Regions from separate parts of the Homo sapiens genome. Here region 2 is linked to region 1. The links come from fine-mapping of genetic effects on gene expression. A gene starts in region 1. The other region holds a variant in brackets. All regions are shown on one strand. Distances are between the middles of the regions. Region 1 holds the start of IL1RN (interleukin 1 receptor antagonist). Region 2 overlaps ZNG1B (Zn regulated GTPase metalloprotein activator 1B).

Region 1 (5,245 bases):
CAGAGAAACATTTACCCAGGAGCCGCAGTGTGGGTGGGGCTTTTTACTTGAAACGCTGTCTGAAGGCAGTGGCCAGGATGGAACTCTCCACCCTACCTTGGCAAGCCACTTCTCTTCTGCAATCTGTAAGGACATTGTTGAGAGAATTATGGTCTTCCAATTCCGGAGGGTTGAAGAAAGACAAATAGGAGAGAACCTATCATAGTCAGGTGCTAGCTGCCTTCTCTTTCAGAGAGTGTGAGAATAAAGTGATACACTTGATTATTAGCAAATACTTTGGAAATTTTAAACGCTAATATTCAACACACTCTGGAAGAGGCAAATAAGTAGACAGGTTCATATACATCATCTCCTTCAGCTAGTCCTCACAAAAACAAACAAATGAATAAACAAAATTCTTCTTTGGCCCTCATAGGAAGACACTGTTTCTTGAACGTGTTTCAAAAAGGATGGGTGACTCACTCAAGGTCACACTGTTTATGAGGACAGTACAGGAATACAGACATGCCATTTTGCCTGAAAAAATCCATCACCCAGGGAGGTGACACAATTTTGCAGAAATGTTCTATTTCCTCTGAAGGATACATTCTTTAAACCTTTGGGAAATTCATTCATAGTCTTCCTCCTTTGAAGGATTAACTCTCTGGACACAAAGTGTTTGATTCTGATTTGTTGGTTGGAAGATGTGTTGGTTGAGAGAAAGATTCTGATTTGTTGGTTGAAAATAGACTCATCAAGATCAACTGCTGTAGTAGTAAATATTTTGACATTTTGTCTGTATTCCTGTGCTGCCCTCACAAGCTGCATCACCTTGAGTGAGTCATTCATACTTTTTTGTTTGTTTTTGTTTTGGAGATGGAGTCTTACTCTGTTGCCTAGGCTGGAGTGCGGTGGCGTGATCTTGGCTCACTGCGACCTCCATCTCCTGGGTTCAAGTGATCCTCCTGCCTCAGCCTCCCGAGTAGCTGGGATTACAGGCACATGCCACCATCCCTGCTAATTTTTGCATTTTCAGTAGAGACGGAGTTTCACCATGTTGGTCAGGTTGGTCTTGAACTCCTGACCTCAGGTGATCCGCCCACCTCAGCCTCCCCAAGTGCTGGGATTACAGGTGTGAGCCACCGTGCCCAGCCCAGCCATCATTTTTGAAACACGTTTGAGAAATAGTGTCTTCCTTTGAGGGCCAAGGAGACATTTTTTTTGTTTATTTGTTTGTTTTTGTGAGGACTAGCTGAAGGGGGTGATGTATATTAACCTGCCTACTTATTTGCCTCTTCCCAGAGTGTGATGAATATTAGGGTTTAAAGTTTCTGAAGCATTTGTTAATAAAGCCCGGGGCTGGAGGTCAGAAGACCTGGATTTCTCTGCATACTTTTGCCATCAGCAAGCTGTGTGACCTTGGACAGATCCCTTTTTTGTCTAAATCTTTCTGAGTCTTCTTGAAAACAATGCCAGGTTGGGACAGGATGATTGCCAAGCTCCCGTCCAGCTCTAAAACACTGCAACGTATGCTTCTGCACCAGCACTGTCCATCCTGTAGATCATGCAGAAATTCTCTTCAACTTTTTCCTACCCATAAAATAGGAGCATGCTTACCTTTTTCCTAATGTTCCAGGCCCCGGGTCTAGAATATTGTAAGTAAGGAAGTTAATGTGTATCAGAGCCCATTATGGGCCAGAAGTTCTCCTCTTCCTTCCTACACCTGCTTCCTCCCTCCCTCCCTCCCTCTTTCCCTTCCTTCCTTCCATCCATTTGTGAAGAAGACATGATCACCCTCATTCTGAGAGTGAAGAGACAGAGGCTCAACTAATGAAATGATTTGTTCAAGGTCACACGGGTGGCACAAGGCAAGTGGCAGAGGTTGAATTTAGACCCATTCCTGTCCAAATGCTGAGTTTATGTCATCGTCCCGAGACCATAACTTTAAAGATGTAAGATAGTGGGAAAAGAGTTGATTTCAAAGCACCTCTCAGAAGGACTCACTTTACATCAGGGGTCAGCAGACTCAGGCCAAATCCGGTCCATTCCCCGCTTTTGCAAAGAAAGTTGTAGTGGAACACAGCTAGGCTTATTGATTTATGGATTGCCAACGTCCTTTTGTGAAACAGACAGCTGAGCTGAGTAATCGTGGCGCACAAAACCTAAAATATTTACTATCTCGTCCTTTACAGAATGTTTGCCAATCTATGGTCCGGAGTCCAAGGCTGTCCATTTTTCAAAGAACACAAAGTGACATGAGACTGTCCCATGTGCAGGGAGCCCTATCATTTTATTATGAAAAAACGGCCTTTCTGCTCAAATCTGTTTTTTAAAAAGTCAACAAACAGACTCTGGGTACCTGTCAGGAACAGTAGGGAGTTTGGTTTCCATTGTGCTCTTCTTCCCAGGAACTCAATGAAGGGGAAATAGAAATCTTAATTTTGGGGAAATTGCACAGGGGAAAAAGGGGAGGGAATCAGTTACAACACTCCATTGCGACACTTAGTGGGGTTGAAAGTGACAACAGCAAGGGTTTCTCTTTTTGGAAATGCGAGGAGGGTATTTCCGCTTCTCGCAGTGGGGCAGGGTGGCAGACGCCTAGCTTGGGTGAGTGACTATTTCTTTATAAACCACAACTCTGGGCCCGCAATGGCAGTCCACTGCCTTGCTGCAGTCACAGAATGGAAATCTGCAGAGGCCTCCGCAGTCACCTAATCACTCTCCTCCTCTTCCTGTTCCATTCAGAGACGATCTGCCGACCCTCTGGGAGAAAATCCAGCAAGATGCAAGCCTTCAGGTAAGGCTACCCCAAGGAGGAGAAGGTGAGGGTGGATCAGCTGGAGACTGGAAACATATCACAGCTGCCAGGGGCTGCCAGGCCCCAGAGGGCCTGAGAACTGGGTTTGGGCTGGAGAGGATGTCCATTATTCAAGAAAGAGGCTGTTACATGCATGGGCTTCAGGACTTGTGTTTCAAAATATCCCAGATGTGGATAGTGCGACCGGAGGGCTGTCTTACTTTCCCAGAGACTCAGGAACCCAGTGAGTAATAGATGCATGCCAAGGAGTGGGACTGCGATTCAGGCCTAGTTGAATGTGCTGACAGAGAAGCAGAGAGGGGCACCAGGGGCACAGCCCGAAGGCCCAGACTGATATGGGCAAGGCCTGTCTGTGCTGACATGTCGGAGGGTCCCACTCTCCAGGGACCTTGGTTTCCCCGTCTGTGACATCTGTGACATGAGAGTCACGATAACTCCTTGTGTGCCTTACAGGGTTGTTGTGAAAATTAAATGCACAGATAATAGCGTAACAGTATTCCGTGCATTGTAAAGAGCCTGAAAACCATTATGATTTGAAAATGGAATCGGCTTTGTGAGACCATCACTATTGTAAAGATGTGATGCTGATAGAAATGACAGGACTGCTTGTGCATGCCCTCTGCAGTGTGACATTCCAGCAGTGAAATCATGTTGGGGTGACTTCTCCCCCACTCTGACCTTTATGTTTGTCTGGGCCGAGGCTGCAAGTCGGGCTCTGTGGGTGTATGAGTGACAAGTCTCTCCCTTCCAGATATGGGGACTGTCTGCTTCCCTAGGTTGCCTCTCCCTGCTCTGATCAGCTAGAAGCTCCAGGAGATCCTCCTGGAGGCCCCAGCAGGTGATGTTTATCCCTCCAGACTGAGGCTAAATCTAGAAACTAGGATAATCACAAACAGGCCAATGCTGCCATATGCAAAGCACTTTGGTTTGCCTGGCCACCCCTCGTCGAGCATGTGGGCTCTTCAGAGCCACCTGATGAGGTGGGTACAGTTAGCCACACTTCACAGGTGAAGAGGTGAGGCACAGGTCCCAGGTCAGGCTGGCCAGAGCTCTGTTTATTACGTCTCACAGCTTTGAGTCCTGCTCTCAACCAGAGAGGCCCTTTACCAAGAAGAAAGGATTGGGACCCAGAATCAGGTCACTGGCTGAGGTAGAGAGGAAGCCGGGTTGTTCCCAAGGGTAGCTGCTCCTGCAGGACTCTGAGCAGGTCACCAGCTAATGGAGGAAAGGCTCTAGGGAAAGACCCTTCTGGTCTCAGACTCAGAGCGAGTTAGCTGCAAGGTGTTCCGTCTCTTGAAACTTCTACCTAGGTGCTATGGTAGCCACTAGTCTCAGGTGGCTATTTAAATTTATACTTAAATGAATGAAAATAGAAGAAAATTTAAAATCCAGACCCTTGGTCACACTATCCACATTTAAAGAGGTCAATAGCCACATGTGGTTAGTGGCCACCCTATTGGGCAGTGCAGCTACAGAACATTTTTGCATCCCAGAAAGTTCTTTTGGATGTTGCTGCTCTACAGCATGCTTTGCTGAAACAGAAGTGCCTTCCCTGGGAATCTCAGATGGGAAGCAAGTAAGGAGGGGAGTCAAATGTGGGCTCACTGCTCACCAGCTGTGAGGGTTGGGCCTGCCTCTTAACCATTGTCAGCCTCAGTCTTCTCATCCATGCATGCCGTGGGTATACTAAAATACTATACCCCTGGAAGAGCTGGATGCAAATTTGACAAGTTCTGGGGGACACAGGAAGGTGCCAAGCACAAGGCTGGGCACATGGTGGCTGTGCACTACAGCTGAGTCCTTTTCCTTTTCAGAATCTGGGATGTTAACCAGAAGACCTTCTATCTGAGGAACAACCAACTAGTTGCTGGATACTTGCAAGGACCAAATGTCAATTTAGAAGGTGAGTGGTTGCCAGGAAAGCCAATGTATGTGGGCATCACGTCACTTTGCCCGTCTGTCTGCAGCAGCATGGCCTGCCTGCACAAACCCTAGGTGCAATGTCCTAATCCTTGTTGGGTCTTTGTATTCAAGTTTGAAGCTGGGAGGGCCTGGCTACTGAAGGGCACATATGAGGGCAGCCTGAAGAGGGTGTGGAGAGGTAGAGTCTAGGTCAGAGGTCAGTGCCTATAGGCACAGTGGTCCCAGGGCCACAGCTGGGAAGGGCAAATACCAGAAGGCAAGGTTGACCATTCCCTTCCTCAAGTGCCTATTAAGGCTCCATGTTCCTATGTTGTTCAAACCCTAACTCAATCCCAAATTAATCCACCATGTATAAGGTTGAGCTATGTCTCTTATTCCTGGACACCATACTCAGCCATATTCTGGTCCACACATTAAACAAGCTGGATGACCTTGAAGAAGCTTCACCCACTCTGTTCCTCAGCTTTCCCTTCAGTGGGATGATATCAACTGGACAACAGGATGTGCGATTCTTTTAGTTCCAGC
Region 2 (5,245 bases), 310 kb after region 1:
TTTTTTTTTTTTTTTTTTTTTGAGACGGAGTCTCGCTCTGTCGCCCAGGCTGGAGTGCAGTGGCGGGATCTCGGCTCACTGCAAGCTCCGCCTGCCGGGTTCACGCCATTCTCCTGCCTCAGCCTCCCAAGTAGCTGGGACTACAGGCGCCCGCCACTACGCCCGGCTAATTTTTTGTATTTTTAGTAGAGACGGGGTTTCACCGTTTTAGCCGGGATGGTCTCGATCTCCTGACCTCGTGATCCGCCCGCCTCGGCCTCCCAAAGTGCTGGGATTACAGGCGTGAGCCACCGCGCCCGGCCCCCTTAATATTTCTAAGCTCTATGAAGGCAGAGACTATCTTGTTCACTTTTTCACCAAGGCTCAGCATAAATCTGTAACGTATTAGAAACCTTCGAATGAATGAGCTATGTCTTAAAGTGTTTTTTTTTTCATAATATGGTTAAAAAGCCCTAGTAAATCTTCTCTTAGAAGATTTCTTACATTCACCCTTTCCTTTCAGTTTTCACATCACTGCCCTGTGAAACACTCATGTTCAGGGCCTCTGTCTCAGGCTTGGACTGGTTTTAAGATTTTCCTCATTGCCCTAAGTCTCTCCCATTCTATACTTCATATTTTTGTGATGTTGAGCTTCCTAAAGTACTCTAAATATAAGCCTTCATCTCTTAAAAAGCTTTGAAAGGAATATGACCTAAAAGATATTAATACCCTAATACTCTGTAAAATCTTCCTAGTTATATACTAGAAAACTTAATGTATTTCAGAAGACATGTATAGCCTACATGTAAAAGTTTTTAGCAGCACTGTAATAGTAAAACACTGGAAACAAACCAAATGTCCAACAAAAAAAAAAGATAAAGAAATGATATAGTCATACAATTGAACTACAATACTATGCAGTTAGGATTTTCTTTTTTTCCTCTATGAATTTTAGTGTGTACGGTTCACAAGACTATTTTTTTTCTACTGGAGATTGACATATTGGGTTTTATATGCCACCTGCTGGATAAAGTTGGTATAGCTTTATGAATTTATCTTACTGAACATTCTGTCCATTGTTGACACTACCTGGCTCTATTCCCCATTTCATAAAAACTTTTATAGATTGTTTAAAGCATACTATAAGTAGCCATATAGTCAGCCTGAAGTTGCGTCTTGTTAATGTTGAAATAAAAGGTCATTATAAATAAAAGATTGTGTGTAAATTTTAGGGAAGGTTAGGCTAGGTTGAAGAAACTGTTTCAACTTGTAGGAGTGTTTGTAAATATTTATAAAATTTTATGTCTACATAAAGTATTTTGCAACAGGTTTCAAAGGATGCTTTAATCTTATCCTCTAGGATATTCTATACTAAAATAATATATGAAAAATAGCACGCAAATTCTCAAAAACGTTAGGATTCTTTATATGTTTTTTGTATCTTTAAAATTATTTTGAATTTTTTTATTTACAAAAAATATGTTTTATAGGTGCTGGGAAGACAACACTTCTGAACTATATTTTGACAGAGCAACATAGTAAAAGAGTAGCGGTCATTTTAAATGAATTTGGGGAAGGTAAGTAAAGTTCAATAAATGTCATGTTGCAAGATTTTGTGTGACTGTTTATTCCTCTGGTGAATTGCTATTCCATATTTAAAAATGAAAATGCAAGGTATTGTATTGATGTGGATAGCTTTAGAAAAGTTGGATTAATTTCTGTTAAGATTTATATGGGTTGAGATACTGAAATTAGTTTTAATAAAATTTTATTTTGTATAACTTTGGAATTCTTATTAACAGAATTAAACTACATTTTTACATGAAATAAATGACTCCAGAAGTAAAAATCTAGACATATGAAAAAACGTTTATTTTTTATTTTATTTTATTTTTTTTGAGATGGAGTCTCTCTCTGTCGCCAGGCTGGAGTGCAGTGGTGCAATCTCAGCTCACTGCCACCTCTGTCTCCTGGGTTAAAGTGATTCTCCTGCCTCAGCCTCCCGAGTAGCTGGGACTACAGGCGTGCGCCACCATGCCCAGATAATTTTTGTATTTTTAGTAGAGACAGGGTTTCACCATGTTGGCCAGGATGGTCTTGAGCTCCTGGCCTTGTGATCCACCTGCCTCGGCCTCCCAAAGTTGCTGGGATTACAGGCATGAGGCACCATGCCTGGCCAAAAAATGTTTTTTTTAGGAATTAGGAAGGCACTTTTGTATGGACTCTATTGCAACTCATGAAAAATACTTGAAAATGCTTCTGTTATTAGTTAACTTTGTTTAATGTTTATTATCTGCAATGCAGTTAAAACTCAATATTTTAAAAATAAAGGTAAACATATGGTCTTTATCCTCATGTATTTTAAGTTATCTGTGAAAATAAGTGTGCTTAACTTCTCAACTGAAATATTAAACTGTAGTCAAAAAAATAGCTCTAGACACAATACTTCTGTTATCTTTATAGAAGTTTTTCTTCATAAGTATGAATTGTAATCAAAGCTCACTTCTAGCCAAAAAACAATATCTATTAAA[T/C]GATTTCTTTTAAAATGTACTATTTTTTTTCAGTTGTAAAAAGTAAAAGAGCTAGGTTTTATGAACAGGATGGGAAGCCAGTTATATTCGATTTCTGGTTTTAATAAACTAAAGAGAAAAGTGCTTTTTAGGCAAAAATCCTGAGATTTCTAATAACAGACTGTTTTTTTATCATCTTATTAAATAACCTATTGCACACTGATTACATTTATTCTTACTATTTTCTTTATTTTTTCCTGGATCATTTTCGCAATTTTATTTTTCACAGCATTCTCAATACTTTTCTTCATGTTTCCTTAATGTTCTGTATATAGTCCGAATTCTGTAGCAACCTCTTTAGAAGCTCTTTATTAATACCTAGCTGAAATATAAAAAATACGTAAGTGTAAAACTACTCGATTTTATGGGAGCTCATTTGCTTAGTGGGCTTTTAGAACTTCACCGTTTGGTATATTTCTTTATTAGAGGAAAAGTAAAACATTTAAAATAATTCTTATAGATAACAAGCATTTCAAATATAGTTTATTCTTTCTTAAGTAAGTATTGCTAGGAAAATATGTGAATTTGACTAAAAGTTTAGGTTTTTTTTTTTTTTGAGATGGAGTCTCGCTGTGTTGCCCAGGCTGGAGTGCAGTGGCACAGTCTCGGGTCACTGCAACCTCCGCCTCCCGGGTTCACGCCATTCTCCTGCCTCAGCCGCCTGAGTAGCTGGGACTACAGGCGCCCGCTACCACACCTGGCTAATTTTTTGTAATTTTAGTAGAGATGAGGTTTCATTGTGTTAGCGAGGATGGTCTCGATCTCCTGACCTCGTGATCCGCCCGCCTTGGCCTCCCTGTAAGTTTAATTTTTAAATGAGCACATGGTACACTGGCCAAAAACCTTCCTCAAGATGAACTAGGGTTTTTACTCATTGGGAATATTCAGCAGTTTGTCTAACAGAAACAATTTAGAAGAAGAATGAAAAGAAAAAGATAGATAAGGCAGTCTCTTAAGAGGTTGAAGGGCATACAAAATCCAGTATATAAAACATACTAGTCTATTTAGAAAGTTTACCCTGGACAAGAAAAAAATGCCTTCAAGATAGCTACTTTATTAAGAAATGGGGGTGGCCAAGTAAGAGGCCTAAGGAGGAAGTAGGTATGTTTATCAGTTTAGGATGTGTCTTTTTCAGGGCTTAAGTCATCTTAAATAAAAGCTAACATAATGTAGTGTACTGTAATTTAGATATCGAGGCTGCATGAATAAAATGAAAGAATATAAGTTATAAAATGCAGTTTCTGCTTTAAGATCTCCATTATTGAGTTATCCTCATCTTTGTTTTTTGTTGGCTAATGGACATAAGCTAAAGAGTGCTGTTTGTTAATTATTCTAGGAAGTGCGCTGGAGAAATCCTTAGCTGTCAGCCAAGGTGGAGAGCTCTATGAAGAGTGGCTGGAACTTAGAAACGGTTGCCTCTGCTGTTCAGTGAAGTGAGGAATGTGTTTACTGTGTACATGGTTTACTAGAAATGTTTATTGATTATATTTCCAGCTTTAATTTTCTTGAGTAATTTAACTGAATTTACACAGTTTGCTTCATTGTATTTTCAAACAAATAGAAAATAAACTTATTAGGAAGCATTTTCTTAAAGTGTTTCTTGCTGTCTTTTCTATCTGCTCTAATGTTTTGGTCCTTTTATTGAGTTTTTATTGCTTTTGATGTCAGGGCTTATTTAATCTCTAGTGCATGAAAGTCTCATATGTAAAAAATGATTATTCTGAATTTAATCTGTCATTGGTCATATTTCTAAGTGTTCAACCTTATAAAAAAAATAAATGACTATCAAAAAAGAGAAAAACCTTACATTATGTTCTACTAGTTAAGTTTTCAAGGACAGTGTTCACTAGTCTACCATAGACCCTAGAAGAGTTACCCAACACATAGTAGCACTCAAATATTTGTTGAATGAATTATAAAAATGACTACTTGTACTGTTAATTTTGTGTATTCTAGTGAATTAAATCTCTTCGGCATCATTTACTCCCTTAGGTATTTGACTTTGTGTCAAATGTTTTGGCAAGGATAAAATTATAACAGACTTTCTTGAACAACCAAAATATAATCTATTAAGGATTTTCCTTCACTTTTGATAAAATAAGAAAAAAGGAAATTAAAACCTTGCATCCTAATGTAAAATAGAATTATATGGTGTTTAATATCAGTGTCCCTTTAGCTATTATATTAAACTACTATAGTTAATAAATTTTATCATTATTTTGTATGTTGGTTTTTAAAAATTTCATAAAGCTATAAAAAGATACTTGGTCAGATAAAGTTTCCTCTGCTTTTAATTTTAATAAAGTATTATTATGTATATGATTTCTTTTTACCTATTATATATATGCATCTATTGTTTTCTCACTGGTAAATATGGGACGGACATTTTGTTAGAAGGTTAGAAGTGAGTTAAATTTTCACATTCCTAAGGGTACTTTTGTCTTGGGTTGTTGAATATATTTTAAAGTGTTTATAATAATCACTTCAAAATATTTAGGTAATTAACTGTAAATGATGTTTTGGTATTCTCCAGGGACAATGGCCTTAGAGCTATTGAGAATTTGATGCAAAAGAAGGGGAAATTTGATTACATACTGTTAGAGACCACTGGATTGGCAGACCCAGGTAAGAAGTGAGGTTGTTAATAACCAGAATATAGTTCTGTGATATACTGTAAATAGATGTATTAGAGGAAT

The links. PIP is the estimated chance that this variant, and not a neighbour inherited with it, causes the effect.
Region 2: its variant is the best candidate, but not a certain one, in a credible set for the expression of IL1RN in sun-exposed skin (GTEx, PIP 0.71).

What each region holds. Positions count from the first base shown.
Region 1 is chr2:113,124,965-113,130,209 of GRCh38, forward strand. IL1RN (interleukin 1 receptor antagonist) reads left to right here and starts at 2,634. Exons shown (of 4, transcript NM_173842.3): 1 at 2,634-2,776; 2 at 4,612-4,700. The coding sequence starts at 2,661.
Region 2 is chr2:113,439,882-113,445,126 of GRCh38, forward strand. It overlaps ZNG1B (Zn regulated GTPase metalloprotein activator 1B), which reads left to right. Exons shown (of 15, transcript NM_172003.3): 2 at 1,470-1,556; 3 at 3,886-3,982; 4 at 5,083-5,174. Among named protein-coding and RNA genes, the nearest start is that of ZNG1B, 4.8 kb to the left of the region's middle. The variant T/C (reference allele first, on the strand shown) is at 2,511.